Linked DNA regions of Homo sapiens. The protein of the gene in region 3 interacts with the protein of the main gene of each other region in a biochemical or structural test. Each region holds a gene or a part of one and is shown on either strand. Other genes may lie near its edges. The genes, in order: INAVA, IPCEF1 and CYTH3.

The links.
Region 1: the proteins of CYTH3 (region 3) and INAVA form a complex in vitro, tested with the Homo sapiens proteins (one study listed by BioGRID).
Region 2: the proteins of CYTH3 (region 3) and IPCEF1 form a complex in vitro, tested with the Homo sapiens proteins (one study listed by BioGRID).

The regions. Positions count from the first base shown.
Region 1 is NC_000001.11:200,909,739-200,919,669, reverse strand, and holds the end of INAVA (innate immunity activator protein), read right to left. Parts: intron 8,218-9,931; coding exon 7,533-8,217; intron 6,134-7,532; coding exon 6,041-6,133; 3' UTR 3,928-6,040; downstream 1-3,927. UniProt on the Homo sapiens protein: Expressed in peripheral macrophages and intestinal myeloid-derived cells, is required for optimal PRR (pattern recognition receptor)-induced signaling, cytokine secretion, and bacterial clearance.
Region 2 is NC_000006.12:154,351,531-154,365,006, forward strand, and holds the start of IPCEF1 (interactor protein for cytohesin exchange factors 1), read right to left. Parts: upstream 5,274-13,476; 5' UTR 5,142-5,273; intron 3,611-5,141; exon of another isoform or gene 3,537-3,610; intron 1-3,536. UniProt on the Homo sapiens protein: Enhances the promotion of guanine-nucleotide exchange by PSCD2 on ARF6 in a concentration-dependent manner.
Region 3 is NC_000007.14:6,160,516-6,169,449, forward strand, and holds the end of CYTH3 (cytohesin-3), read right to left. Parts: intron 5,296-8,934; coding exon 5,219-5,295; intron 5,102-5,218; coding exon 5,030-5,101; intron 4,913-5,029; coding exon 4,758-4,912; intron 4,502-4,757; coding exon 4,429-4,501; 3' UTR 1,264-4,428; downstream 1-1,263. Other genes in the region: USP42 (ubiquitin carboxyl-terminal hydrolase 42), read left to right, coding at 40-80. UniProt on the Homo sapiens protein: Promotes guanine-nucleotide exchange on ARF1 and ARF6. Promotes the activation of ARF factors through replacement of GDP with GTP. Plays a role in the epithelial polarization.

The DNA.
Region 1 (9,931 bases), on a different chromosome or scaffold from region 3:
GTAAAGCAAGAGGAAGGAGCTGGTGACACCACTGGGCTCCAAAGCAGCATGGGACACAGGCCTGAGTTCAAGTTGCTGCTGCCCTCTCACACTGCCCTGCAAGAAAAGCCTCTCAGAATAGGACTTGGACCCAAAGCACGGGAGCTGCACACAATGACCCTGGCACCAAACTGCATGAGTTCCAAGTTCAGCTCCTCTGCTTCATCAGCTCTGTGATCTCCAGCAAATTAAACTCTGTCAACTTTACCTTCCCCATCTGTATGACAGGGAAGATGATACTATCTGTTATTATTTGAGGATTAAATGAACAATGAGTCTTAATACATGTAAGAAGTGACCTTGAGCAAACTAAAATCCCCCAAGCTTCAGTTCTGACATCTTAACCTGGGGATGATCATCACAGTATCTATTATTGTTGTGGATTTAAATAAATTAATATGTGAAAAAAAATTAGAATGCTTCCTGGCATATAGTAGGAAATCAATGAGTGCATTCTTTAGCATACATTTATTGAGCACCTACTATGTAAAAGGACTCTCCTAGACACATCAGGGAACAAAAGAGACAATAATCTTTGCTGTCACAGAGCTTCTTACACACCAGGGAGTTCCTTCATAGGAACTACCCTTCTAAAAGAATTTTTATTTTGTATTTGCCCATTTGGGTTTGTATATACACAGAGGTCAAAGAAAATCTCATTGAATTTAAGTGGGCTTGAAGAACGTGAATGGCAAGCCATTTATATATCTGGTAAGAAAGCATTCTAAGCCAAGGCAACAGCAAGTGTGAAGGCCCAGAGGCAGGATCGTGCCTGGAAAGCTCAAGGAACAGCAAGGAAGCCTGGGTGTCTGGAATGGGAGGAGCAGGGAAGAGTGGTGGGAGGTGAAGGTAAAGCAGTAATGGGGCAGATCATGAGGGACTCGTAGCTTATTGTAAAGACAATTGGCTCTGGGGACAGGAGCCCTGGGCAGGTTTTGAATAAAAGTGGTCTGACTTTGATTAACAACAGCACTCTGGCTGTTCAGCTGAGAATAGATCAGGAGTAGAGGTGGAGAATGGCATGGGGTGTGGGCAGAAGCAAGAGACCAACTGGGAGGTTATGACAATAATACAGAGGTGAGACGGTGGTTCACACCAAGGGAGGTGGTTAGATGCAAATGATCAGATTCTGTATCCATGTTGAGGGTAGAACCAATAGGAATAGTTGATGGCTAGATGTGAGTATGAGAGAGAGAAGTCAAGAATTTTGGCCTTGAGACACTGGAAAGATTGAGTTCCCATTAACTGATGTGGGGAACAGAACAAATTTGCAGTTGGGAATAAAGTTAAGAGTTCAGTTTGGAATATATTAATTTTGAGATGTCTACTAGGCATCAAAGTGGAGATATCAATAGGCAGTCGGATGTAAGAGCCTGGAATTCCAGAACTGCAGATCTGGACTGCAGATACCAATTTGGGAATTGTTGGCATGTAGATGTTATCTAAAGATTTCTCTGCCTGGGTGCAGTGGCTCATGCCTGTAATCCTAGCACTTTGGTAGGCCAAAGTAGGAGAATCACTTAAGCCCAGGAGTTCGAGAACAGCCTGGGCAACATAGTGAGACCTCATCTCTACAAATAACCAAAAATTAGCTGGACATGGTGGCACGCACCTGTACTCCCAGCTACTTGGGAGGCTGAGGTGGGAGGACTGCTTGAGCCCAGGTCATACCTCTGCAGAGAGGTATGATGGTGCCACTGCGTTCTAGCCTGGGTGACAGAATGCGACCATGTCTCAAAAGAAAAAAAAATTATATATATATATATATATATATATATATATAGAGAGAGAGAGAGAGAGAGAGAGAGAGAGAGAGAGAGAGCGTTCTGGCTCTCCTGAACAGCTGTCAGCTAGAGGAGGTGTCACTGAAAGTCTCAGGCAATGTCTTGTTCCTGGCTCAGCTCCAGGCTTCTCAGGGAGGCAGGCCTGAAAAAGCACAGGCATGCAGAGACTAGAGCTGTGACAGGGGTAGCCAGAAGTGGGCAGATGTGTGCCCATTAGGTACACCTCAAGCGAGGGCTTGTGCAATCACCACCACTTCTGAGCACCCACAGTTAATTGAGAGACAGAACCAACTGCTCACCCGGTAAGCTGGACTTCCAAGAGATTTGTAATGTCGATGGTTCAAAGGTTACTCTGTTTGGTTTTCGCTTGTTAGAACTCGGATTCATCTGTACACTTGGGGCAGCAGCCTGCAGCTTGCGATGAGAACAGTGGGCAGGCCTGGTGTAAGATACTCCTTCCTAGGGATACAGCCTCTGCACTCACTCCAGGGGGAAGCTGCAGGAGGCAGACCCTGCCCATTTACCACAAAAGGAATTGGTTGAGTAGGGCCAGTGCCGGGTTCCAGGGTCAGCTTCCCATTTCTTCCCCATGGGAAGATTCGGGACCCTCTGAAGGGCCCTGGTCCCTCCTGATTTGCCTAGTAGTCTTCCATTCTGGGATCTTCCAGCATAGAGAATCTCAGACTCACAGGTGGGCTCCTAGGTCACAGTGGCCATCCCTCTGCCTCCAGGCCAAATTGCCTCTGGGAGTCTTGCTGCTAAAATCCCGAGGTCCCCTCTTCCCAGAGGCTTCTGTCCCCACCCCCTAATTCATAACCTTACTTCTGCCCTATGGTAGGGGAGCTAAGAGCCCCCACATGTCTGCCCCTCCCAGACATGGCCCAGGGAAGCCTGCTGGTGGACCAGGAAGAAACTGCTGTGCAACCTGGTTCTCTCACCGCCCTGCACTTCGGGTCCCCAAACGGGCGCGTCCCATCGCTCACTGCCTTAAAGGGCCTTGCTCTGCCCCTGTGTCCGTCTCTTTTGTATCCCCCCTCTTAGCTGGTCTCTGTCCTGTTGTTGGGAGCTGCCCCTTGGACAGGTCATCCCCTGGGAACTTGCTCACCCTGTTTTCCCCGGGCCTAACTCACCATCGTCTAAAATACAGAATCCAGCGCCCCATTCCCCACAAATAATAGGTCGAAGCGCTCAGGTCTGAGATCAGGATACCCCACAACTTCTCCAGAGACCCTGGAGCCGTCTCCCCTCCCCTACCTTCCCCAAGAATGGAGTGCCCCAGACCCCTGAGGCCCACAGATCCCCGCGGCCCCCAGGGCCGCACCCAGGCAAGGCTGGAGGCGCCCCTTGGGCAGCGAGGGCCGGGGCCCTTCCCCGCCCCTTCCTTGGCTGTGGAGGGAACTGGCGGGAAGGGGGACCCCTTTACCTGACACGCCGGCGCCTCAGGTCCGGGCACAGCCTCTCCAGGGGGCGCTGTGCTCCGGGGCCCTGGAGCGGTCCCTGCAGGGCAAGCACGGAAGTGTCCAAGGTGGCGCTCCCCGCCCCTGGCCTCAGTGGGACCCCAGGCAGCGGAGGGGCTGTGGGCACTCTTGCCGATGGGGGAGGGGCCTGCGGAGAGCCCCGCCTCCTCACCACCCCAAGGAGGGGTCCCAGTCTTCCAGGTATGGGGAAGGGGCTGTTTCTCATGAGCCTGGGCTCCGGGCAGTCAAAGCTCCAGGAATGGCTTGGAGGCGCTGAGCCACCCATCTCTACCCTCTGCCTGGCCAGTGCCCTGTCCTTGGGGAAGTGACTCCCACAGGCCAGCTCCTCAAGCTGAAGAGGCTGTAAGGAGCCTTGACAGGGGTTGTGCTGGCTTCCACCCTGCCCCGGAAGCAGAGAATCTGAGAGCCTCCCTCTACCACCCAACCCATCACACCAGCTCCCCAGGGACCTGGCCAGACCAGCTGGAGGGGCCGGGCAACTTGGCCACCTTGGCGGGCAGCCCAGGGGGCCGGGCTCAGCCTCTGCTCGGGGAAACCTGGCGCGCGCGCGCGCGCACACACACACACACACACACACACACACACACCAAAAAATAAAAATAAATAAAAATAAAAAATCCCTCATCCCCAGCTCAGCCAATCACAAAAAACAGACTTTATTGAAGTATTTAGCACTAAACCCCACACAATTCCAGCTCTGTAGCTGAGGACACAGCCACTTGGCAATGGCACCAGGTGTTATACAAGACCAATAAGTTAATGTAAAGGACGCTTAGGTGTGGAGGGCCAGTGCTCAGCCGTCTCCTGGCTCAGAACAAGGCACTCTGGGCTCCAGTTAGGACACTGAGAGGCCAGGGAAACCAACATGCCCTGGAGAAAGGGGCTTAGAGACAAACCGGAAAAGCACAGCATCCAAGCAGGGTATTCACGCATGGGGGGCAGAGTAGGCCCAAAAGTTGGGGGTTGCTGATGCGGTAAGAGCACAGTGAGAGAAATGCCAGGTGCATCCCTTCAGCCTCCTGCATCCTCCCCCAGGTTCCTTTGATGGGCCATCCTGGGTCTTCCCTTGGCACCCTTGTGCAATCGGCTACATCGTTTTCTTTCCAGTAGAGAGAACTGTGCCTCTTCTAGGTCAGACACCAGAGTTCTTGGAACCTTCTGCTATATTCACAGTCTGTTCCAGTCCAGGTAACATGGGGGCAGAGAGTTCTGCACAGGTGAAGTCAGAACTCAGCTCTCCCTACCTCTCCTAGCCTCAATTCAGTTGCTTTCTCATTGAAGCAGGTCCCCTGACCTGGAAGCAAAGAAGGCCCTAGGATGAGAACCCAGGGACAGCTGGGTGGTCTTAGCACAGGCAGCTTCCAGACTTGCTCCAGTCGCTGCAGCTGGGACAATTAATGAATGCCCCCAAAGAAAATTCAGCATCTCATCAGCCCTTGGGAGTGAGTATGTCCATGTTTGTATAAATAACCACCTTCTCAGAGCAGAAGCATAGCTGGTGGGGGGAGTAGGAACTGTGACTCCCTCTCCCAACCAGAACATGCCACAAAAGTGGTGCCTTTCCAAAACCACTTGTAAAGTATTGGTTTTTGGGACTATGATGAAAAAACGTTAGAAGGGCCAGGTGCGGTGGCTCATGCCTGTAATCCCAGCACTTTGAAAGGCCAAGGCAGGTGGATCACTTGAGGTCAGGAGTTCGAGACCAGCCTGGCCAACATGATGAAACCCCATCTCTACTAAAAATAAAAAATTAGCAGGCATGGTGGTGCTTGCCTGTAATCCCAGCTACTCGGAAGGCTGAGGCAGGAGATTCGCTTGAACCCGGGAGACGGGGGTTGCAGTGAGCCGAAATCTTGCTACAGCATTCCAGCCTGGGCGACAGAGCGAGACTCCATCTCAAAAACAAACAAAATGTTAGAAGGAGCAGTGGGGCTGCAAGCCCTTGAGATGCCCAGAGGTAGCTGTCAAAGGGTGGCTGCTGTCCACTAACCACAAGCATGGACCAGCCCCCAGCCAGACCCCCTGAGGCTACAAACTGTGATGCCACTGACTCAAAGCTCAGGGGTCTGGGAGCCCACAGGGCATAGACAGGGTATAGTGACTGGGTCCCTAAAGAGGATTTAGGGGGTCAGGAAAATAGCAGGGTCTAGCAAGACAATACACCACCGGGATATACTGACCTTTGACCTACCACTTGGTGTGTGCATCACAGAGCACATTAGAAAAGGGGGAAGAGATTCTCCCCCAGCCCAGGCTGGGGTACCCAGAGACCTGGGAAATGGGGGAGAGTCATGTGCATGAGTATGTACCATGTCCAGCCTCCAGCAATAGTGGGACAGGAGGGCCAGGGGCAGTTCCCCAGGGAATTTCTTAGAACCAGAGCACAGAGCGTTGGAGAACTCCCAAGGTGGCTCACTCTGCTTCACTCGTCCCCTGCCACTTGTCTTATATAAGGAGATAGAGGCTGTCAGTCAGACAGGCAAGGCCTTAAGTCCAGTAGGCCAAACTCTGGGGGATAAAACATAATCATATCACAGGGGTATTGAGGACAATCCACATATATAAATCCTTAGGTCAGGGCTTCTGAAAAAAGTCGTGTAAAAAAAAAATAATAAAAGGTCTCAGCTCCAGGTCATCGGCCTGCGATGGGGATGGGGGAGCTGAAAGAGGCACTCAGGGGTGGGGGGGTCTCAGCCCAGCCCCTCTATGAAACAGTTTTTTCCAGCGTGGGGCGCAGAGTTACACCTGGCTGATGATCTCTCCTTTTTCAGGTACAAAGACTTGCACAGGGGCCCCATCAGGCGATCTCCGCAGCACACAAACTGTGGGCACCTGCCAGGGTCAGGAAGAAAGGACAGGTGGGTAAATGAACCAGGCAGAAAAGCGGGGACAGCAGGCACAGTTACACCATCCTTATCCCTTAGGGACACTGACCAGCAGAAGCAGCAGCAGCAGCAGGCCCTGGCACTCAGCCCCTTCCTCCCAGGATGCTCTCTGTTCTTCAGGGACCCCCTTTACACATTTTCCTCCATGTTCTTTTGGGGTGTGACAGGCGCCCTGACCTCCTCCTCCCCCACCTTTCCTGGGCTCACTTCTCATCACCCTCCCTGTCTGGCACGTTGGGATGGGCTGGGTCTATCCAGCCAAGGACAGGCCCAAGCGCGCAGAAAGGGAAAAGCACGTCAGCTGGAGGGCGCGGCCTCGGACCGGGGCCAGGGTGCTGCCAGGCCCAGGATGCCAGCTGCAGTCCAAAGAACCGTGGGTGGGGGAGGGACACGCAGCTGGGTCTGCTGGGAATCTGGGGTCTCAAAGAAGCAGCTTGTTGGTAACTTCTGGAGCACATCACCTGCAGAGCCCTCCGTACCAGGGAGAAAGAATAAAGAAAGGATTCCTGTGTGTGGCTCCCCACTTCCAGAATGAAGAAATAGGGGCCAAGGAAACCAAGGCTGCCACCCTACCCAGTGTCAGGGTGCTCTATCCTATATACTACCCTCCAGCCTGCTCCCTGGCCTCTGTGGCCCCAGATGATAATAATATCACATATCTAGCGCTTACCATGCATTGCTCTAATCATTTCAGCCTCTTGGCAGCCCTATGAGATAGGTACTCTACTACTCTCATTTCACAGGGGAGGAAACACTAGGTCCAAAGGGGTTAAGTAACTTGCCCAATCATACAGCTCGTAAGTGGCAGAACTGGGATTTGAACCTGGTGGTCTAGCTTGAGGGTGGGTGCTCTTAACTCTGATGCCACCCTTCTTCTCGGCTTGGTGGTGAGGAGGGGTGTCAGGGAGGATGCTGATGCCCAGAAAATCACAGGTTCTGGCTTCTGCAACTCATTTCCTACTCTCCCTTTGTCCTAGACCTTCAAATGGAAATCTGAGGGGCTGATTTGGACTGGACTTTTGATTATGAAGAGGCTTATCTGCTTTGTGCATCATCATTTAGGGAGAGAAAAAGTCTCAGCTATCTTCGGGGATCATCTCCACCAGTGTATATGCTCTTGAGCTAGACATGGCAGGCAAAATTAGGAGGTGCCCCAGGGAAGCCAAGAGTGCCTTCCAAAGCCAAGAGGAAATGATTTTTTGGCCTGTTCTTCCTAGACGGGGATTACCCGGCCACTAGGTTGCTGCTTTGATGCCTCTGTACCCTTGGACATACTAGAATTGCAGCCCCTCCCCAACAAAACAGCCCTCCTGCCTGGCCCCGGGGTCCCTCCAGAGCAGCCGTACCTGTGCCCGGGGTCCCAGGGCTCGTCCGAAGCCCTCTCTCCCAAGGGGCAGGCTCCTGACCCGGAAAGCTCCTTGGCGGTCCAGTGAGTGGGGGCGGGTGCTCCGGAGGCGTGCACGCTCGTGCCACCACTTGAGCTCCTCGGACACGGCGGCCTTGCTGAGCCCCCGGCCTGCCGGGCTGTCCTTCAGGGAGGGCGTCCGCACGATGCGGCTGCGGGAGGGCACCAGACGCTGGTAGCGCAGGGGAGTGCCCTCCTCCTCGTAAGCAGGGCCCGGGGCTGCGCGGCGCAGCTCCCACTCGCCAGGCGGCAGGGGGCTCTCAGCCACCACCACGTACCGCCCCGCCGGGAAATAGCCAGGCGGCAGCAGTAGCTTGGGGTGGTGGGCGACCAGCTCTCTGCTGCCGGCTGGGACCCAGGCCCCGCGGTGACGATGGGTCTTGGGAGGGGAGAGAGGCTGCAGAAAGGAGATGTCGGGGCTGCTGCTGCCCGGCGAAGTGGGGTGGGAGATGCTGGAGACGTCAGAGCCACTGTCTTCTGAGCAGGAGTGGCAGGCGGCGTGGGGCAGCGGGGGCTTGGTCGCGGGAAAGCAGGAATCTGGCACTGTCACCGTGTAGTGAGTGGGGCGGCGGCGGGGAAAGGCGCTGCGACCTCGGCCCTCAGGACCCGCCCGGAAGGAATCCACCCTGAAGAGGGAAAGAGAGGCATTCTGAGTGTGGGGGGCAGAAACTCCACACTGGGGTTGGGGCGGGAGGTGGAGTTAAAACAGGTGAGTCCTGCTCTACCTCAAGGCCCAAGCATGGCCCTCGTGCAAGGGTCTTAGGTCAAGTCTCCCAAAGCAAACCAACAAACCCTCTGCCGGGCTGCGTGGGTGCCAACGCATTCCTTCCCTGTGTGCAAAAGTGTTCCTGCTGCATTCACAAGCTTGTGATTCGTGTAAAGTGTGCTACATCAAGTAGCACATTAAGTACTTTTTTTAAAGTACTACATTAAGTACTTTTTTTAAAGTACTACATTAAGTACTTTTTTAAAGTACTACATTAAGTACTTTTTTTAAAGTACTACATTAACTACTTTTTTTAAAGTACTACATTAACTACTTTTTTTAAAGTACTACATTAAGTACTTTCAGCTTAGGTACACCGTGTCCAGTGGCAGATCATCCACAGCATCTGTTCGGTAGGCACTGCCAGGTACCTTACTTGAACGTGTAAAAGCTGTCATGTGGTACCCAGAGCAGTTACCTGCAGCCCAAGACCGGCAGGGGCTGAAATCCAGCCTTCACTTCACTCTACTAATGCACCCAGGTATGGGGCTGTGTCTGCCTTTTCCTAATTTGCACAAAGGCATGGTTTGTAAAATGGCCCTCGTAGCATGTAAAATATAAAATCTATTGCTGTGTGGTGGCGGACGCCTGTAATCCTAGCTACTCAGGAGGCTGAGGCAGGAGAATCGCTTGAACCTGAGAGGCGGAGGTTGCAGTGAGCAAAGATTGCGCCACTATACTCTAGGCTGGATGACAGAGCAAGACTCTGCCTCAAAAAAAATTTAAAAATTAAACAAAATCCATTGCTTTACTTGAGAGCAGTTGTCCCAAGCTGCCCCCAGTTCAGTGCTGCCTGACCAGCCAATTTAAGCTGATGGAGAATTCAGCAGTGCTTTCATGGTGCCCCAGTCCCCATATGGTATGGCCAATACTGCCTGTCAACGCTTAGCCATTTAAACTATTACCAAGTAGCAGATGACTTAGAAAGTAACATACAGTCAATTCTCATTATTTGCAGATTCAGTATTTGTAATTTTCCTAGTTGCTAAACTTTATTTTTAATCCCCAAAGCAATATACACAGTGCTTTCATGGTCATTCTTGGACACTGCAGAAAAGTGACAAATTTGAGTCTCTTTAAGTTCTGAGGTTAAACGAGGCCATGTTCTGCCCTCATGTTTCAGTTCTCATGCTGTAAGTGCACAGTGTCCTTTTTGTGGCATATTTATGTACTGTGTGTGTTTTTGCTTTGATTAGTGATTCTGCTGTTTAAAATGCCCCCAAATACAGTGCCAAAGTGCTGTCTACTGTTCCTCCCTAAGGCATACTGGGAAAAGGCTGTGGTGTGCCTTGTGGAGAAAATATGTGTGCTAGGTAAGCTTCATCTGGGTATGAGTTACAGTGCTGTTGGCCATGAGTTAATGAATCAACAACCCATATTAAGTAAGGTGTCCTTAAGCAGAAACTCACATAACATAAGGTTATATATTAATCAGTTGATGCAAAATGTCGTGACCAAAGGCTCACGGGAACCTAACCCTATATTTCCCCAGGGGCAAGGGTTCAGTATTTGCTAATTCAGGATTTGCGTCAATTTTACTTTATAGAACATAACTACCACAGATAATGAGAATC
Region 2 (13,476 bases), on a different chromosome or scaffold from region 3:
TTTAAAGTAGAGAGCAAATCTGCTCTGCTCAGACTCGCCCTTGGTGTCAAATCACTATTTATATAACAAAACCTTTAACATAAATGAAAACAATGTAATGTGTAGAATGGTAGACCACAGGCTCAGAGACACAAAGGTCTGGGTTTGAATCCCTCTCCCCTGCCTATTGTGGTGGTTTGAGGCAGGGGACTTTACCTCTCTAAGCTTCAATTTCATGGAGATAACAATAGTACTATTTCCCAGAACTGTTTTAAGAAGTGGCTTAAATAGCATAAAAAGGAACAAGATCATGTCCTTTGCAGGGACATGGATGGAGCTGGAAGCCATTATCCTCAGCAAACTAACGCAGGAACAAGAAACCAAATACCGCATGTTCTCACTTACAAGTGGGAGCTGAACAATGAGAACACATGGACATAGGGAGCGGAAAAACACACACTGAGGCCTGTGAGGGCCGGGGGAGAGGGAGAGCATCAGGAAGAATAAGCTAATGGATGCTGGGCTTCACACCTAGGTGATGAGTTGATCTATGCAGCAAACCACCATGGCACACATTTACCTATGTAACAAACCTGCATATCCTGCACATGCACACTGGAACGTAAAGTAAAAGTTGAAGAAAAAAAAAAAGAAATTGTAAATGTAACTAAATGTAAATGTAAACTAAAAGGTAAAAATAAAAGTGCAGATCACAGTGTCTAGAACCTAGCAAGTGCTCAGTAATATCATTGGTTTTTTATTCAGCATTCCACGTATGAAATATTCAGAAAATGCTATAGAATCTGTTGGGAATCCTATCTTGCTGCTGTTTCTATTTCAATGCTTAGTGCATGCTGGGTTTTTGTTTCTTCAATTAATTCTTTCATTTCTAACTTGACTTAGTTTTCCTTGACGATCTGGTCATTTTTTTATTCAGACTTCTTTTGAAAGACTCATCCACATTCTAGTAACTTTGGGCTGAGTTTAAGCTGGCTCACTTTTCACCTTTCAGCTGCTTCTATGTCAATCCCTGTGTCAGTCTGGGAGACCTGTCTTTGCTCACATTTGTTCAGCCCTTTGCCTTTTTGTCTGCCGACTATCTCTCCTTTCTAAGACAAAGATTGATTCTAAGACAAAGACAGAAGATTCTTTTCAATGCCTACAAGCCAAAATATTTTATTTTGGTTACGTCCCTGATAAGGGACTCCATGGTGACCTGCTGGCCCTGTGAGACGGCAGGGCCAAGATTCTAACAACAGGAATGATAATTCTTGAATCTATAAAATAATCTGTGACTCTATAGAAATGTTTTTATGACCTCTCCCTATGAGTACCAAGATGATAAACATATGGCAACATTCCCTAAGAAATGTATTAACAATTATATTGGGAGATTTAAATTTAACTTATAATTAATAACTGACAAATTGACTATTGCATTTTTTAGGAAATCATCAAACTCAGGTTTAGACGCAGTTATAAGTCATCCAGAGAAAATAACCCATTTTCATGTCATTCTAGGAATTAATCAGACCAGCCAGCCCCAGTGGGACCACGTTTCCTTTTTCTCACTTCAGAGTTGACACATGATTCTGCACCAGCCTTACTCTCAAAGGGGATTTCCCTACAAAGACTAAATAACATAAATTTTAAGTGTCATTTCTTAGACTGCAATGAACCATGAACTTCAGCACACTATCACTAAAACATTGCTTTTGTCGTCCTGTTGGTGGAAGATTTAAGGAGGGTTACATTTTTGTCCATTTCTTTTCTTTTCCTTTTCCTTTTTTTTTTTTTTTTTTTTGAGATGAAGTCTCCCTCATTGCCCAGGCTGGAGTGCAGCTGCGTGATCTCGGCTCACTGCGCCTCCCGGATTCAAGTGGTTCTTGTGCCTCAGCCTCTTGAGTAGCTGGGATTACGTGCGCCCGCACCATGCCCAGCTAATTTTTGTATTTTTGGTAGAAACAGGGTTTCGCCATGTTGGCCAGAGTGGTTTGGAACTCCTGACCTCAGGTGATCCGCCCGCCTTGGCCTCCCAAAGTCCTGGGATTACAGGCATGAGAGCCACCGCACCCGGGCCTATTTACTTTCTTTCAACGTTTGTTTTATTTTCAGATTATTAAAATAGTTCAGGTATGTTCCACTAATGAAAAATCTGGGAAGAAAATAGAGTACAAAGTACAAAGAAAGAAGAACCACGAGCTATAAGCCCACTACTCATATATTAACATTTTAATGCATTTCACCCAAATCTTGCTTCTCTGCAGTATTTTTACATAGTTGAAAAAGTTATGTTCCTCCTTTTTGGACTTAGCATTACATCATGAGACTATTTCCATAAATATCATTTTCTTGATGACATTTCTTTATATACCACCATGTGTTCAACCATTCTGATAACTAGGCTTATCATATTTATTTTAAATTAATGATTCTTTTAAAAACTCACTTTCACTTTACAAAATTCAGAAAATGCACAAAGCATAAAGAAAAAAAGAGAAATTAGAGATTAAATTTTTAAGCGTGGCTCTGGCAACTTGAAAACTGATATCGATAACTGCCATTTAATGCAATCATATTTTTAACCCTCACACAACAACCCAAAAAGTCAATATGTTATAGTCACCACTTTATAGGTTCGGAGGTCACAGAGCTGGTAGGTTCAGAGATATAGATTTTGAACAGATATGTCTGAGCCCCCAACTGTGTTTTCTCTTGGCTAAATTATACTGACCTTCCCATGATTACCTCCACCATTACCTCTACTACCATCACCTCCAACCACCATCTCCGCCATCTGTACCATCACCTCTACCATCACTTCCTCAACCATCTCCACCATGTCTACCATCACTTCTACCATCTGTCACCTCCACCGTCACCTCCAACCACCATCTCCACCACCACCTCCACCACCACCTCCACCATCTCCTCCACCACCACCTCCACCATCTCCTCCACAACCACCTCCACCATCTCTACCGTCACTTCCACCATCACCTCTACCACTCCAATCACCATTTCTACCATCTCCATTACCACCTCCACCATCGCCTCCACAACCACCTCTACCATCTCCACCGTCACTTCCACCATCACCTCCCCTACGACCACCACTTCCAACACCACCCCCTTTATCTCCACCTCCACCTCCACCACCATGTATCGCCAACCCTTTCACTTTACTGACCTGGGGATTTTTCTGATCCCCGTTCTACACACCCTTTCTTTACTCCACACCTTCATATTCTCCTCTCCTCCTCCACTCTGATCTTTTCTAACATTCACTTTTTAAAGTGCCTGAGTAACAGAGATAAAGCAATGGCTTTCCTACCACATTCATTTTATGAATTATGCCAGTTATTCATTCATTCAACAAATATTTACTGAGAGCAGGCACTGTTCTGAGCACTTGGGAGCACAAGTAACTCCTCCATTTGCAGGATTCTCTTTAAGGCTAAAAAGCTTATTTTTTAGGATTTTTCTTCACACACACACACACACACACACACACACACACACACACACACACACACCATTTGCCACATTAGACCTACTTGCAAATTGTTAACCTGTACTGCAATTATCAGCTCACACTGCAGAGCCTCCAAGCTGGATGGAAAGCAGAAGTGAGCTGTTCAAAAGGATGCACGAGTCAAAAGGAAAGTCTCAGGCAATAGTGATGAAGTAATTTCTTATCTCTTATTGCCACAGCAAACTACCGCAGGAAAGAACTTCCTATTTCCATACTCTGATGATGTATATTTGCTTAACACAGCTTGCCTGAAATAGTTCATACATGGACCCACTCCAGAAAAGACACTTGATTTATAAAAAGAGGAATGGAAGGAAATTATAAGGTAAATTAAAGAATGAGTTCATCAACACATACACAAACTTACACCCTTTTCTTCCTTGCTTGCATGATGTGAGCAGAAAGAAATGTGTGTTCTTTCCATTTCTGTTTCTTTTCTTTCTTTCTTTCTTTTTTTTTTTTGAGATGAACTCTTGCTCTGTCACCCAGGCTGAAGTGCAGTGGCGCAATCTCAGCTCACTGCAACCTCCGCTTCCCGGGTTCAAGCAATTCTCCTGCCTCAGCTTCCCAGGTAGCTGGGATTACAGGTGCATGCTCCCACGCCCAGTTAATTTTTGTATTTTTAGTAGAGACGGGGTTTCATCATGTTGGCCAGGCTGGTCTCGAACTCCTGACCTCAGATGATCCACCCGCCTTGGGCTCCCAAAGTGCTGGGATTACAAGCGTGAGCCACCGCACCCGGCATTCTATTTTCTATTTTCTTTTCTTTCTTTTTTTTTTTCTTCCTGTAGAGATGAGGTCTCATTATTTTGCCCCCAGGCTGGTCTCAAACTCCTGACCTCAAGTGATCCTCTCGCCGTGGTCACCCAAAGTACTGGGATTACAGGTGTGAGCCATTGTGCCCAGCCCTCGGTTTCAATTTTCTACATAAAATAAATAACTCGATAGAAATTAGACTTTATCAAGGACAGCACTAGGAACACATAGGCCACTCAAGACTAATAGAGCCCACTGCTGTAGTCAAAGATGCTTCAGTGGGTTATAATTCTGACTTCTATAATTAAATACTTTCACATATACCCCAGCAAAGAAAAATCAAGTGCCCCAGACACCCTTACTAAAAGACTCTGAACCAACAACACCTAGCTTTCATTTTTATACCAGAGATATTTTGGCAAGCCTGAGACCTTTATCAAAGTGTAAAATGTCCCCCAGCTGCCTCCATGCAAAGGAAGCTCCCTTGCAAAGAACACACTTTCTCGAAAGAGGGCGGCCCCAGAGTGCTTCCCCAAATGAACTCCTCAGGACCCAAATACATGCTGAATTGTGCTTTTCTAAATCAAACCTGTGGTCTGCAGTCTAAACACCTATCAAGACAACACCCATTTAAGAAACATAAAAGCAGAGTGAGTACACAACTCTCTCCTCTTTCAAAGCTTTCACAGAATTAAAGAATCTTTAGCACCTGGCTTCCCAGATTACAGAGAGCTGAGTGAATATTACATCCCCAAAGTCATATTTCCTACCTCACTACTCTAAGGAGAGTGCTAGGGTATCCATTGCTTTGCCATCTTGATCTGTCAAGCAGTTACCTCTCATACATCAGCCAAGAAGTGACGTTACTTACATGCAATACAAAGAGAGTAAATCCAAGAGCAGTCTTATTCCTGGATTCAGAAGCCTCATAGTACTCTGAGGCCAAGCTTGAGGATTCTACTTAAAGCAGCCTCAGCTCTGGAAACTCAGTCAACCCAGAACTAACATTCAAAGCTGATCAGAGAGTAAAGCTCTTTCGAAAGAAGAGGAAGTATCATCTCCACTTCCTCAATCCTAACGTTCTTCCTTCTCATTGTTATGAAACCCTTCCTTGATGCCCATATCCAGGACACAGTACATGTAAGGCAAGCACACCCCATCTGCCTGAGTTCATTGATCACTAAGCACTGCCCAGTGTATTCATTTGCCGAGCACATTGGTGGAACAGTTCATGGTTCTGCTTTCCTGTTTTGGAGGCAAGGATGTTCATTTACAGGCATGGAGGGTGAGATGATCTGCAGAGTCATTCTCAGCATTTTTGGGTGAAATGCCACTTCAACCTCTTTAGGTTCAATCTTCTTTCAGATTTCCCTCTTTCCTCCTTTCCTAATCGTTCATAATGCTCTAATAAAGAGAGGGTACAGACACATTTGTAAAACGTATTTTAGGATAAAAATAAGTCTTAGCCTGCCATCTTTTGCAGTAGACATAGAAGAGTCTCTAACCACAAAACTTTTCTTTCCCACATTGGAAAAGGAAAATGGCAGGCTGAAAGTCAGAGATATTCCATCTCATTACAAATTCCTGCCCTCCCAATCTCCCTTTCAACACCAGCTTCTTGTTTCTCTATACCTTCTAGGGAAATGAATACAGCTGGGCGTGGTGGCAGATGCCTGTAATCCCAACCACTCAGGAGGCTGAGGCAGGAGAATTGCTTGAACCTGGGAGGCAGAGGTTGCAGTGAGCCGAGATCGCACCACTGAACTCCAGACTAGGAGACAGAGCAAGACTCCAACTCAAAATAAATAAATAAATAAATATGTATGTGTATATATATATATAATATATATATATAATATATATATTATATATATATTATATATATATTATATATAATATATATATTATATATATATTATATATATAATATATATATTATATATATTATATATATATAATATATAAAATATATATATTATATATATAAAATATATATAATATATATAATATATATATAAAATATATATAATATATATAATATATATATAAAATATATATATAAAATATATATATATATAAAATATATATATATAATATATATATAAAATATATATATATAATATATATATAAAATATATATATATAATATATATATAAAATATATATATATATATATATATATATATATAGAATATATAGAATATATAGAAACCTAATCCCCAATGTGATTGTATTTAGAGGTGGACCTTTGGGGAGTGATTAGGTCATGAGGACAGTGCCCTCATGAATGGTATTAATTTTCTTATTAAAGAGAACCTGGAGATCTGCCCACCCCTCCACCATATGAGGACATGGCCAGAAGACAGTCACCTAGGAACGAGGAAGCAGGTCCTCACCAGACAATGAATCTGCTGGCGCCTTGATCTTGGATGTCCAGCCTCCAGAACTGTGAGAAATAAATGTCTTTTGTTTGTAAGCCACCCAGGCTACGGTGTTTTGATATAACAGCCTGAATGACTAAGACAAAGATAAAATGTAAACTAAATCTGTGGAGGAGTGAAAAAATGAAAGAAGATGCTGTACATTTTGAGCAGGAACAAAATGAAGGTTCTCTCAGCGGCTTCTTGTTTGTGTACACTTCTATTTCTGGAAGTGCTGCCTCATCTTCTCCCTATATTGAGTTGTCTTCTAGTTCCCTGCTTTACGTAGAAAAAAAAATGGTACTAGGTGATATTAAAGGAATTTAGTGGTATCAACAGCATGGCCTGGCTTCTCACCAGACATTTAGATGCCATCATCAAAGATATCCTCAAAAGACATGTTATTTACCTTTATGGGGCCAGAATAGAGCCACTTAAATTCTTTGAGCAAAGATGATTTGTAGAATTAGAATAATCCTCAAAACGGCCGGACTGTCAGTTCAAGATGACGGGCTGACCACAGATTTGCTCCCTCCCTCCCCAAAGACTCCGTTAAAATGAGAAAAGTATAAAAAGTTTATAGGGCCGGGCACGGTGGCTCACACCTGTAATCCCAACACTTTGGGAGCCCCAGGCTGGCAGATCATGAGGTCAGGAGATCGAGACCATCCTGGCTAACATGGTGAAACCTGTCTCTACTAAAAATACAAAAAATTAGCCACGCCTGGTGGCACGAGCCTGTAATCCCAGCTTCTCAGAAGGCTGAGGCAGGAGAATCGTTTGAACCTGGGAGGCGGAGGTTGCAGTGACCTGAGATCGCGCCACTGCACTCCAGCCTGGGTGACAGAGCGAGATTCCGTCTCAAAAGAAAAAAAAAGATATAAACCCACAATAACCCAAAAAAGGAGGAAAAGCATCAGAACTTGGGAGAGCACAACAGATTTCTGGCAGCCTGAAAGCCGATGGAGGAGCAATAACAGATGGAGGCAGGCAGGGGAACCACAATATCTCATTAGTTAGGAGAACACGGCGTTGGAGGAAATTGCCCGTGTGCGGTGCTGAATCCCTGAGAGGACCGGAACTCAAGCCAAAAGAAGCTAAGAGAGCTAAATGAGTGATAGGGTGACAGGACTGAAAACAGGAAGAGTAATTCAAAGTCTGTAAGAACTCAGCCCCTCCCATACCCCTCTTTCAAATCTCTCTGTCCGCCCAGCCTCTGCACAGCAAACACACACAATTCCAACCCCGGGCAGCATACCGAGGATTCGTCTCTACACATAGTGAAATCATGCAGAGAATACAGGCATTGTATGTGGATATGAGCACTCCACAGTCAGAACTCCACATTCTGGCAATAAGAGCCTCATCTAGCATGTGCTGGATGATGGATGATGTGCTTTTTTTTTTTTTTTTTTTTTTGAGACAGAGTCTTGCTCTGTCACCCAGGCTGGAGTGCAGTGGCATTAATTATCTCGGCTCACTGCAACCTCCGCCTCCAGGGTTCAAGTGATTCTCCTGCCTCAGCCTCCTGAGTAGCCAGGATTACAGATATGTGCCACCACACCCAGCTATGTTTTGTATTTTTAGTAGAGACAGTGTTTCACCATGCCGGCCAGACTGGTCTCAAACTCCTGACCTCAGGTGATCTGTGCACCTTGGCCTCCCAAAGTGATGGGATTACAGGCATGAGTCACCACGCCTGGCCTAGATATGCTTCTAATCAGTATCCTTAGAGACAGTCCTGAAGATATTGTATCCATTAAAAAGAACAGGATGCTAAGAAAGATAGATAATCTGAAAACAAGAAAGACCCCTTGGATATTGCAAATATAATTGTTAAATAAAGATTTTGATAGGTTGGGTGATAAATTCAAGTGAAATTTTCAGGAAATATTATTTGATGACATAGTCAAAGAAATAACATAAAGGATCCCCCTGAAGTCCAAGAATATTTAGATTAAAAAGTCTCATCGAGTGCCTAGGATGAAGAATTTCAAGTCACTGCAAAATTTCCAAACTCCGGAAATAAAGAGAAAATCTTAAAATCTCCCAAACACAGAAAATAAGTCACTTTCACAGAAACAAGGAATCAAAGGGCTCCAGATTTCACAGAAGTAGCATTAAGGGTTAGAAGGTCAGCGAGCACAGCCTTCAAAGTTCTGAAGGATTTATATTTCACTCTAGAATTTTGTGTTCATTCATCCAGTGTATTAGTCCATTTTCATACTGCCATAAAGAACTGCCAGAGACTGGGTAATTTCTAAAGGAAAGAGGTTTAATTGACTCTTATAAATTAAAGAGGTTTAATTCAGCATGGCTAGGGAGGCCTCAGGAAACTTACAATCACAGTGGAAGGTGAAGGGAAGCAAGGCGCCTTCTTCACAAGGTGGCAGGAAAGAGAAGTGCTGAGTAATGGGGTAAGAGCCCCTTATAAAACCATCAGATCTCATGAGAACTCACTCTCACAAGAACAGCATGGGGGAAACCACCCCCATGATTCAATTTCCTCTACCTGGTGTCTCCCTTGACACATGGAGATTATGGGGATTACAATTCAAGACGAGGTTTGGGTGGGGACACAAAGCCTAGCCATAGCATTCAGCAAATATTTTTGAGCACTGTGTCTAGGCAGTGAGGACGCAGCAGTGAACCAAATAAAGTCCTGCCCTCAGGGAACTTCTTTTCTCATGCTCAGATCAGGATGGTGTACTCTCTACACAAACAAAGAAAGTAAAATATAATGTGTTAGGTAGAAGTAAGTGCTAAGGAGGAAAAATAAATCAGCAGAGGAAATATATAGAGTCTAAGGAGAGGCTAAAAATTAGATGGGGAGGCCAGCAAAGGACTCACAAAGGTGACCTCTGAGTGACAGCCTGGAGGAAGTGAAGGCGTGAGCTGTGTAGACAGCTAAGGGAAGAGAAATCCGCAGACAGAGCCCCAAATGCAAACATCCTGCCACCCCCAGAGCCTTTTGGTGCCGCAGGAACAGCATGGGGGCAGGTGTGGCTGGAACAGAGCAGAGCGGGTCAGAGATGGAGAGGGGAGCCGGGGAACCCATGATTATGGTTAGGTCCTATGGGGATCGTTGTGAGAACTTGGGTTTTTGACTCTGACCAACTAAACCAGGAGCTGACAAACTATTTCTGGAACAGGCCAGATAGTAAATATTTTAGATTTCGTGGGCCAATCTCTGTTCAATTACTCAACCCTGCCATTGTGGTATCAAAGCAGCCATAGATAACATGTAAAAGAGCAGCTGTGCTCTAATAAAACTTTATCTAGGGCCACTAACATTTGAACTGCCTATAATTTTCACGCATCACAAAATCTTCTTCTTTTGATTTTTTTAAGCACCTAAAAATGTAAAAAACTGTCATAACTTACCAGCTGTGCAAAAATAGGCAGCAAGCCAAAAGCGGCCCGTGGAAAGTAGGTTGCTGATCCCTGAATGAAACCATCAATTAGGTGTGAAGGTAGAACATGCCCGTTTTCAGATATATCAGAGCTGACTCAGAAGGCTGACTGCCCACAAATCCTTTCTTTTTTTTTTTTTAATTTTTATTTTTTGAGACAGAGTCTTGCTCTGTTGCCCAGGCTGGAGTGCAGTGGCATGATCTCACCTCACTGCAACCTTTGCCCCCCAGGTTCAGCGATTCTCCTGCCTCAGCCTCCCAAGTAGCTGAGATTACAGGCGCCTGCCATCACGCCTGGCTAATTTTTGTATTTTTAGTAGAGACAGGGTATTACCATGTTAGCCAGGCTGGTCTCGCACTCCCAACCTTTAGTGATCCCCCCATCTCGGCCTCCCAAAGTGCTGGGATTACAGGCATGAGCCACTGCACCCAGCCTCCACATACCTTCTTAGGAAGTTACTTGATGATGGACCCCAGCAAAATAAGGGAGTAAACTAAAAAATGGAAGTGGTGGAATCCGGGAAACAGAAGACTCAACCTGGGAGCGTTGCAAAGGGAAATCCTTGGATGGGAATCAGGCAGCTGAACCACACAGCAAACATCAGCATGGAGCTCGGTAAGAGAGGAAAAGTTTCCAAAAGCAAAGTATTCAGGGGAAAATGGAATCACAGAGCGTGATACCACCCCTGAAATTATGGAGTAACCAATATGGGCAGCGCAGCCAAAGAAAGAAAAATAGAAAAACAATTAGAAAACATCAAGAAATAACAATAAAAGCAGTAAAGGAACAGAATGGAATTACTCTATACTGTTCGGCTTGTGAAGTTAAGGATAATTTTTACAGGCATAATAATGCAATACTCACAACTGATTTTCAATTTTGAGGATCAAGATCTGGAGAAAACATGTAAAACAAGAAGATACTGTAAGTGGCAGAGTGTGGTGGCTCGCACCCGTAATCCCATCTTTGGGAGGCTGAGGCAAGAGGACTGCTTTAGCCCAGGAGTTCAAGCCAAGAATGGGCAACAAAGGGAGACACTGTCTCTGTGTATATTTTAAAGAAAAAAAAAGAGAAAAGATTAAGACAATATAAATGTTAAAGTATGCTGGACTCTGATGGCAGCCACTAGCTACTAAAAATTAAGCTTTAGCTAATTAGAATAAAGTAAAATAAAAATTAAGTAAAAAAAATTAAGTAAAATAAAAATTAAGTAAAAAAAATTTCGGTTCCTTGGTTGCACCAGCCACAGTTCGAGTGCTCAGTAGCCACTGGTGTCCAGAAGCTCCCATCTTGCACAGCACAGACATGGAGCATTTCTCTTCATCTGGAAAGTTTCTTTGGAGAGCCCTGGGGGACATGAGAGGTGGAAAGAGAGGTTTGAGAGCCAACTTACAATTTGAGGATTGATTGAGATTCTCCACAAACAAGAAACAAGTGGGACCATATTATTTTAAAAGTTACCCAAGTAACTGACGAGCACTAACCAGGGAGTTAATTATAACACACAAGATCTGTGTGATCAGCTTGGAGTGGAGACAGCTGCAGCAGGAGAAGGTGGCTTTCCTCTTAGTTCCCCCTCCCTGGAGACCCCCGGGATCTCCAATTGTCCCTGTTTAGCAAAAGTTGGTCCACCCTTCAAGGTTTAGCCCTGATGTTAGGATGTTACTTCCTCAGTGAAGTGTTCCCCATCCCTCAGATTTAGCCCCTCCCTCCTTGTTCTCCCAGCATCCCGTGCATGTCTCCAGTGCACATTGTCCTGTGTTATTATAATGATGGTGAATCAGGGCATGCGACATGCATTCTCAAGGTCCCGGTCCTTAGAAGGGCCCTGTGCTTAGTTTAATGCTCTGCAGTCACTCTTTTGAAATGTTGAATAATTTATGAATAAGAGGTCCCCTATTTTCATTTTGAACTGGATCCCACAAATTATGGAGCCATCCTGTTTTTAAGTTTGCCTCTCTAGCTGGACTGTCAGCTCTCTGAGAGCAAGGATGCATCATTTTTGAGATTTGTATCCTCATGATCTAGTACAGGGCCCTCACTAAAATGACCATCTTCCCTAACTGATACTTATCTATATTTTTCTTGTGAGGGCTGTAATTTTATACTCCAAGATCCAAGGACATAATCCATCTCTCAGAAAAGCTATGGTTTGTAGGCTATTGGGAGCCTCTCTCACACCGTCCCTAAACCATCTCTGACTTTCTCTGATGCCTGAAATGCCATAATTACAGTTTTAGTCTTGCTTTTTTAAGGCATTTCCTTCTGTTGCACCGCCAGTCTCTCTGGGAGAGGTGGCCTTTAAGCTTCACTATTGAACTTTAACGAATATGAATTTGTCAGATCCCTTTAGTTTAGACAGAAACATCCCCATCCCCAAAGCAGACGAATCATTTTAAGTTCACACTTTGAACACATAACACACAGCTGTTACTGATTTGGGATGACGGTGGTAAGACATGTAGACAAATAACTCAAACAGCTTTCTGAGCCTCAGCCACTATAAATCAGCAAAGTGAAAATTTTAATGTTATACATGAAAATATATCAGTATTCAAGATTTTCTTGAAAAATTTATAGTCTCCAACACATGTAATATCATCTCAAATTTATGTCTGAAACATTTTCTCATCTTTCCCACTAATCAGGTATAAAAACCCTGCCCTGCTTTATTTACTCTTGGATATATCTATGGAACATGTGCTAAAATCTGGGGGCTTTGCATCTAGGAAAGGAGGAGAGTGTAGACAACCAAGCAGACTAGGAGGGGCAGTGTGTGACAAACGCTGTGTGCCTGATGCTGCGTAGAAGGATCCTGAGAGAGGCCGAGGCGGGTGGATCACGAGGTCAGGAGTTCAAGACCAGCCTGGCCAAGATGGTGAAACCCCATCTCTACTAAAAATACAAAAATTAGCCAGGCGTGTTGGCAGGCACCTGTAATCCCAGCTACTCGGGAGGCTGAGGCAGAGAGTTGCTTGAACCTGGGAGGCGGAGGTTGCAGTGAGCCGAGATCGCGCCACTGTTCTCCAGCCTGGGCAAAAGAACGAGACTCTATCTCAAAAAAAAAAAAAAAAAAAAAAAAAGAAAGAAAAAGAAAAAGAAAAAGAAGGACCCTGAGAGGTCGGGGATGGAAGAAGAGAATCTGGCAGGCTGTCCTTCATGGAGGACACAGCATAGACCCTGATCTTGAAGCACAGACGAGATACTGACAGGGGGAGAAGGAGCAGGAGATGACAACCGCTAACCTGAATAGAGGCTCAGATCAGCTGGTTGACGATCAGCTCAGTGGTTCTTGCTGAGCTGGCACAGCCTCCTAATGGGCATTTTAGAGATTTTGGTGGGATTTTGTTTGTCACAGAGATTGAGAGTTGT
Region 3 (8,934 bases):
TGCCTCCAACTCACTAACCCTGCGCCTCTTGTCTTTCAGATTCAACGCGTTCAACAGAAGCCATCCCCAGCCCAGCTTAAATTATAAAGATAGACAATAACTCTGTTCCAATCTGCGTGGTGCTTCTTTAGTAAATACTGTACAGATTTTACCATGGAGAACTTTTTTTTTAGTTTTTACCTTTTCTTAATTACCCTTATTCCGAATGGACGAACACTTTCTACCACTGCTGACCATTGTAAAATACCGTGTATATAAATCCCATTGAAATAATGCCCTGGAATAGAACATCTCAAATGCTGCTTAATTACAGACTCAGGTCGATTACTTGTATTTCATGTAATGTTCCTCCAAGTTAGACATCTGGTGCAAGACCAACCGGGAGACCATGGAATTGTCAAAAGTACAAACTGACAGTGTGTATATTTAATTTAAAGACTTATTTAAAAACTCACAAGCTCTCACCTAGACTTTGGAGAGCAGTCTGTTTTCTGTAATGTCTGATACTAGAAACTAATTTGCTTATTTTAGTTGTATTCAAGATTTGAAGATGTATTTTATAGACAAGTTCTGTTTTTGAACTTTGTGGAACTGTTCCAATCAATCAATTTCCCAGTTATGATGAGTATTTACATTATGAATGTATAACCCAGACATGATTTGTAAAGCCGACAGTATGTTTCTATTACACAACACTTTTTGATACAGCGTCTCTTGTCTTCACTGATACTGGAGTCTCCGTTGTCTGCTTGGTCCCTTCGAGTTTCTAGTTACAGACACAATCATACTGTGATTTTATTTTTAATATGGATATGCTATCAAACTGTGATACACTTATAATTCACTGGTCCTGCATCAGGAGATGGAGTGGGGAAAACTGTATTTAATACAGTTTGTATCTGAATAATCTGTATGGTTTATACAGTTTGTGTTGTTCAGAGATGTTTAAAGTTTGATCTTTGTTTTTCTAAAGATTAAAAAAGCACTTGCCCCACTGTAAATATACAGCATGTAAAATTTCTATAGTATATAAATGGCAGCAAATCACACACTTGGCGTCTTTTTACTGTTGTTTTCCCCATTTGCTTCCAGACTCCTTCCTGTCATCATCTGAATTCACTTTCTTAAAACCTTCAAGTAAGTGCTCCTGCCGAAGTCGGCACCTTCGGCCAGGCCATCCCACCTCGGACGGGCAAAGGAAAATTGGAGGGGTGTTTGCTGGACCCAACAATATCTGTTTTAAAGAACCAAGTCTTAGGCTTGTTTTAACAATACATGTGATTTTTATTTAGTGAACACAGTATCTGCAAGAGCTCTGACAGCCATCCACCCTCCAATCTTACTTCACTTTACAACCAAGTATCAATAGAGGCTGTTCCTTCATGCGAGCTGTGGGAGTATATACATCATTGAATAACAGACACTCCAGAAATCAACAGATGTACATTATTTACATATTACTATATTTACCGCAAATAGAAATATTTTCTAAGAAAAAAAGTCAATTTGTGGTTTCTGGTCTACCACAGACCTAACTTCTCAGCAAAGCATATCTATGTAGATATCTGCGTTTGTAACTTTAAAAATAGGCATTGCTTTCTATGAAGCACTAAGTGCTGCTCCATCTATAAATAGCTCCTATTTTCAGTTTGGTACCACATTAAACTGCCCCAAAATGTTCTGTGACCCCAAAGACACAAAGTTGCTGCTTATCTGGGTCCAGGGTCAGTACAATTAAACTCAAATATGAACCAGGGCGGCCAGCAAGACAGGCTGGAAGGGCTGTGGCAGTCGCCGCCGCCTCCCCGCGGGGCTCCCCTCACTGCCTCCTGGCCTCTGTCTCTGGAAAAAAGTATCTTTGGCCAGAGTTGGGACTAACAATTCAAGCCCTGCGCTCAGACGTCAGGGTGGGGAGGAGGAGGACTGTGATTGTGACGCGGCCTGCCCAGGGTGAGGGACAAAAAACAGATGTGTCCTGTTTCAGGGCCGTCCTGGTAGCGGCTGGCCCTGCGCAGTCACTGACCCAGAGTTTTCTGGACCAGGCCTGCCTCAAGGATCAGCAGGCATGATGGTCGCACAGCCTTCATGCTAATACTGTCCTAACACAGCCTGGAGCTAGGCGATTTCCTTTGACCACAAAGTACCTGGAGTCTAACTCAGCACCACAGCCTCTGCATGGCTCCCAGGTGCCCACCACCTGGCGAAGCTCATTCACAGATGACAGCAAAGGGGGAGCTTGATCATCTGGCGACTCCTTCCTGCTGCTTCTCCCAACACCCAAAACAGAAAGCTCTGCATCCCCAGGTCACACCTGGGTTGGTCAGAAGAAGGAAACAGCTTGTCCGAGCACAACATGCTGACAGAGCTGGCTGTGGCCAGTCTTGGGTGCCGGGCCAGCCTGAGGGGTGGGCACCGCCGGAGCCGGCCGTCAGTGTGTGGTCTGGGTGGGGGTCCAGGCAGCATTTATTTTCATGGAAGACTGGAGGCCAGAGTTGCATATCTACCAGTCAGGCATTTCAAGAACGCTGACTTGCCTTTCTCAGAACTAAAACTTCCGATTTGAGGTATCAGTAACAAAGCCTAAGAACGTGGGAATGAAAGTCTGATGCAGGACAGGGGTTTCTGGCCTCGGACCCCTCTGCAGTCTAGTGTGACTTAAAGCTACATCAAGGTCAGCCGCAGGGAGGCGAAGGGCCCGCAGCCGCTCGGCCTCCACTTCAAGGCAACTCAAAGAACAGTCTCCGCTGCTGAGAAGGAAACCTAGGTGCACAAAGTCTGAGGTTTTGTCTCTGGACTGGGCATTTTGCACAGGAGTACAGATGCCCTCCAGAGGGTGCAGATTCAAGGTGTGTGTGCCTATGCAGGTGGGGCAGGAAGAGGAAGTCCATAGAGGAAAAGCCAGCCACCAACCCAACAGCCCACTGTGTAACAGGGTCCTGGGGACGCAAATCTCCCGACAGAGAACAGCGTCTGCCACCGGCCCGGGTCGGCCCAAGCACACAATGCCCCCGGTCCAGCCCTGAGCCCTCTCTGTAGGTGGGGCCCAGATCCAGCCTTCCTTGAGCGGAGCACTGGGCACCTCCTATCCTTACATCCACAGCAACCTGACAACCTCCCAGGCGGGCGTGGAGTTTGACCAGTTCCACCACCGGCGTCTATCTGGGTTCTCTACGTGCCGGGCCTCTGCACCCCAGGGCCTGTTCTTCCCTCCTCGTAGGGAGGGCACCTCTCTCAGGACACGGCGCACTACATGGGGTGAGACTGTTTTTAGTTAATTCTGTGTCTATTCATTAAGAAATCTGGTCAAATTAGAAAGTCTGTAAAATAAGCGTTCATTTTGCCACAGGTTTTAAATAGCGATGAATATGGTCAAAAGCCGGTCTAACCTGCTGACCTGTATGAAACGCTGCCATGTGTGTGCATCTAAACAAAACATCAGCAGTTTCACGTGGCTCAGCGTATGGACCATCTGTGTCCAGGGAAAAGGCTGTTTCCTAGGAGTTAGCAGTTACAGCCTAAACACCCCCAAACCATTAACTGTTATAATTTTAATGATTTGCTTAAAGTATTTGTGGGGCCAAAAAGCCTGGTTGAAGGGAGGCCTCATGGGAGTCACCCTGGAGCCCCCAAGTGCCATGGCCGTCCCTCCCCCAGCCCGTCCCGAGCCCACCTGCTGCCCCCCGGGGCTTGTCTGACAGCCTGACAGGGCAGGGCTGCACGCTGCCCCCGTGCCGGTGCCCCCAGCCCTCCCCTTGGGTGCTGTGTAGATGGATATTTTTTCAGTGCACAGTATATACTTGTGTCCAGGAGTTAACTTTATAGCTGCCATTCTAAAAATACTACTGTTAGAAAGTATCTTTTGTTATAATTTCAGAATATAAAAAGGCATATAAAAGCTATAATCCTATATATCTGAGAAAAATTCTGAATAAAAAACTGGTAGCTTTTCCTTTCCTGTTTTGCTATAAAACAGTGGCTTTCTAGAACGGTTAATACTGCCCCGAGTGAATGCGTTTGGCATGGTACGAATGAGGCTCCCGTCTGTGGAATCCGTCCCGTGTCTGCTGTGGAGACAGCGGAAGCTGCTGTCCTGGCTTCTCCCCCTAGGGGCGCCGGGATGGTCGCAGGAAGGAAATGCTTCTGGACATGCGCAGCCGACCATGACCCCAGCCACGGCAGGAGGCCTCGAGGATCAGTCTGGGCCACGGTACGCTCTGGAGCAGCAGCTTGCACTGCAGGGCGACCACCTCCCAGGACCCCAGCCACGGCACGAGGCCTTGGGGATACCACCTGGGCCACGGTATGCTCTGGAGCAGCAGCTTGCACCGCAGGGCGACTGCCTCCCTGCCACGCCTTCCGCGGAGGGGCCGCCCGCGGTGTCTTTCTGCTGGGGTTGGGTCTTTTACCTGGGTCTTTTAGCCAGGAAAGCTATTTTTTATTGGCAATCCTTCGTTTCCTCGTTGCCAACATGTCATAGAAGGGATCTCTGCTGATACTGGCTCTGGTGAAAAAAGGAAAACACACAGGTTAGGTCGTGGGTGACACACAGACCTCCCCTTTCCCACCAGCCCCAGAGGCCCCTCAGACAGGACCGCAGGCTCAGATCTGAACGTCGGCTTTGGCAGCCCGGCCCTCTGGGGTTTCTGGAGACAGAAGGTCCACTCTTGCACACGGAAGCATCCATGTTCCAGACCATCCCCCGCCCTCCAACCGGCACGAGAAGACGGGCCTGGCCCCGCCCCCGAGGCCCCACTCACTTGATGGATTTCATCCACTCCTCCTTCTCCTCCGGGCTCGGGGCTGAGATCCGGTACACCACATGGTTCCCCTCTACCACGCGGCCGTCGGCCTCAGTCTTACAGGCCTTGATGACCTGCCCTTTGTGGCTGGGATTGTAGAGCTCAAAACAGTTCTGGTGGAGAAAGAGAGAGGGGAGGCGGTCAGGGGGGCTTGGGGCAGGTTCCCTGCAGGCAGTGAGGATGGCTCCCAGGTGGCTGGCAGGAGAGAAGGTTCAGGAGGAAGAGCTTACGGGTTTCCGGGGGTCCTCCACCTCCCTGATGCTGAGGTTTTCCAACGGGATGATTCCCCTGGGCTCCTTATCCTACAAGAGGAAAGTACACGGCGGGGCTCACTGTGGGTCACCAGCCTGAGGGTCCCTCGGCCCCAGGGCAGCTCCGGGACTGCTGGGAGGCGGCAAGGAGGCCTGGCCCTTACTTACTGTTGTGTATTCAAAGTAATAGAGGCAGTTATCGGTCAGGATGAACCACCGGCGCTTCCAGGTCTTCACACGCCCTCCTAGAAGCAGAAGGGCCCCGTGAGTCTGCGCTCCGTGCACAGGGAGCCCGCGGGTCCAAGAGGGGGCCCTGGACCTGCACAGACCACTGCGTTTTCAGAAAGGCCACCAGGCGCCAGGCTTGGGTTCAGGTGTCCTTCAGCGTTCCCACCGCAGGGCCCCACATGCACCCACCCCGCCCACACCGGCGCCCCCTCCACGGCACTGATGGGCCCCTTGATGACACAACCGCGCTACAATTCGCTTCCTGGGAGAGTTAGTGGGATGGATGGCGTCATTTTCCCACATGAGATGGCAGTGTGATGAAGTCAGGACTGCGCGCCTGGCTCTGTCCAGGACCTGACCCCACCATGTCAGGTGGTTATCGCATTACAGAGGCCCTTGGGCAGCCCTGGGATCCATCAAAATCAGTCACCCCTGGGCCCAAGGAATCGTGAGACTGAATTAATTTTGTAACAAGATCTGGAGCACACGTGCACACGCACGTACCCCCATCTGTACCTGCCCTCCTCTCCCTAAGGGAAGGAAATCTCTGATCCTTAAACACTGAGCAGAGACAAACTGACTTCAGCTGCTATAGCCTTGCCGGTGTTTGTTTTTTAAATAATTCAAAGAAATACACGCTGGTGACAATGAACTCAAGTGCTCCCTGGGGTACTAGGCCCTCTCTGCCCCATGCCTCTCCAGCGCTGCGGAGCTCACCCGGCTTTCTCTGTGACAGGCCGGCAGGGGAGTAGCCCTCCCTCCCTAAGTGGGGGCCAGCACGGGCGCTGAGGCCTGGAGGCAAGACTGTGTGCGAAGGGCTCTGTGGATGGATCACCAGGACACAGGGGGCTTTCCCTGTTGGGGCCTGGTTTGCAGAGACCCTGGGTGAGGAGGAACCAGCTGCAGGTGGGAGGAAGCCTGGCTCAGCGGAACTGGAGGCCGGAAGCGGGTCTCTGCAGTCCCTCTGGGACCCTCTGGCCCCTGCCTCACTCAGTGCTGCCGTCCTCCTTTGATGCCTAAGGCAGCCTGCAATGCGGTTGCCACCGCCAGCCTGGAACAGGAGCCCAGCCTCCAGCTGTTCCTCCTCTCCCCACAGGCCCCAGTCTCATCAGTGTCCCACCAGCCTACCTGTTAAAGGGTCTGTCTAGACCCTGGTCTGGGCAAATCTGCCCCCAAGCTCTCTGCTGCATCTCCCCAGCCCTCAGACCCTGCCCCCAACATCTCTCCTGAGCCCTGGCGGGGCTTCCACTCCCCGAACCCCTGCAAGCTGCTCCGTCACTGGAACCCTCTGCCCCAACTGTGGCACCGCCTCACTGGTCCCCTTTAAGACCCAGCCAGGCCCACAGCAAGGCCCAAAGTCCTTGTTGCCCTCGTGTCCCTGTCTCACCGCGGGCTCCATGCTCTCTGCAAGCCCTTGGCCTTCACCTTCCCCACCTCCACTGCAGCACACCAGGGAGGCCCAAGTCCACAGGGGAGGGCAGGAGACCCTGGGGGCAACCTGCCTTGTCCCACAGTCCTCCAGTGAGCAGTGAGAGGTGTTCTATGTCCCCGAGACCCTAGGGACAGGAGGACAGTGCTGATTCCTTCCAGGCACTTGCTCCAGCTTGAACTGCTGTGGCAGAATCAGCTGACAGCAACTCCACTACCCTGACATCCGTCACTGTCACGGTCGCCTCTGCTTCCCTCCAGAGACTCCAGAGCAGGCCCCGCTCCAGCTGCACTGGTGCCAGCTGCCATCCCCCAAACAGCGGCCAAAGGCATCTTTTCAAAAACGTGGCAATCATGCCCCTCCGGCTTGAAGCCCCCCAAAGGGTCCCACTGCACTCAGCTTTAAACCCAACTCCTTGGGCGGCAGCAGGGGCTGCCCTTCCTGGCTCCCCAGCTGTGGCCTTTCTCCCTGCCCTGTTATCTGAGTCTCCAGTTCTTGGGGAGCTCATCCAGGAGCCCCCAGGTTGTGTGTTTCTGTCCAGCGCCTGCTCTCTTCCTCCACGCTCCCAGCATGGTGGACAGCAAAGGACCTGTATGTTCCACTAGCCCACACACCTGGCCCCGCCTGGGAGGGGTCTGCCAGGTGGCCTCTCAGCTCCACCTTGGGTCCCCCGCTCACACCTCCCATGCAGAGCCCCATCCCTGTCCAGTCCTCAGGGCCAGGGGGTCGTTGCAGACCAGGACTGCAGGCCCAGGGAAGGGGTGATAAGCTTGGTCTCAGAGCCGAGCAGGCTCTGCTCACACTTGTTTCTGGCCACACCACACAGCATTCTCGCCTGCAGACAAGAGCCTGGCTTCTGGAACCTGCAGATGGGAGCCACTTTCTCTCTGTAAGTTTCTGTCTTCATTGCCGTTAGCAGGCAGGCGCGTACGTGCACACACAGGTCCACATGCACACACTTTCTGTATGGCAGCTCGGATTGGGCCACCTCCTAGGATTTTTTTTTTTTTTTTTTTTCTGGTGATTGATTCAAGACTCGAAGTCTTAAGTTACCAACAATCGTAAGCCACGCCTGTGTACACAGCAGGGCTCCTACGCTCTGGCAAAGCATCCAGGCCTTTTTAAGACCACCTGTTCTAAAAGCAAATCTACAATAAGAATGCAACCAAGCCAGGCCGCACTCCCCGCTGAGCACACGCCTGGAAGCACGTTCTAGATCCTGCACCCATCTCGTCTGCCTCCAGCCAGGGCCCTGGCTCGCCAGCCTTTGGTCTCGAACTTTGTTTCTGAGAACACAGCAGACATACAGGGTGCTGGGAGAGGACAAGGAAGCCAGCCCCTAGAGCAGCAGGTGCTCACCGGGCCGCCCACCACACTGAGGCCACGCCAGCTGGACCAGCCCCTCCAGGGCCCCTGCGCTTGGCACCCGGCGCCCAGCCAGCTCTTGGTTCCCGTGAGCACTGTGTGCACTCATTTCATGGCCTGTTTATCTGCCCAACCAGAAAACAGGTTAGACAACACGAGCTCTGCTGTGCCTTCATTTCATTCACACACTTACGTCTCTAGAGCCGACCTTTCCCTGGTGGCAGGGGTCACATTGGCTGCCAGGCAGGCTGATGGCGTCACTGTCCCTCGAGGGGACACTGGTGGGCAACGCAGGAACCAGAAGGGAGGCATCTAATCAAACGAACATCCCACTTATCCCGGCCCCAGAGTGCCTGCCGGCATTTCCGGTTACATTCCCCCCCACCGGCCCTCACTCTAGAACACTCGCACAATGTGATTTGAATCGGGTCTCTCAGGCACCCGAGCCAAAGACCATGGTACTAGGTTTTCAGGCAAATATCTACAACTCCCCTAAACCTCGGTACAGCCAGAAAAAAGTCAAAGAGCAATGGCCAAGGTCAAAGACCCTAATGGGAATGGCAGACCTGTGGGACTCACACCCTTTCCACCAGCTGAGGAGGCCTGTGCCCGTCACACCGTGTCTCACCCTTCCTTGATGTTTATTTTTTTGAGACGAGGTCTCACTCTGTCGCCGAGGTGGGAGAGCAGTGGCACAGTCATGGTTCATTGGAGCCTCAACCTCCTGGGCTCAGGCCATCCTCCTGCCTCAGCCTCCCTAGTAGCTGGGACTACAGGCACACACCATCACGCCAGGCTAATTTTTTGTAAAGATGGGGTTTCACTATATTGCCCAGGTGGTCTGAAGCTCCTGGCCTAAGCA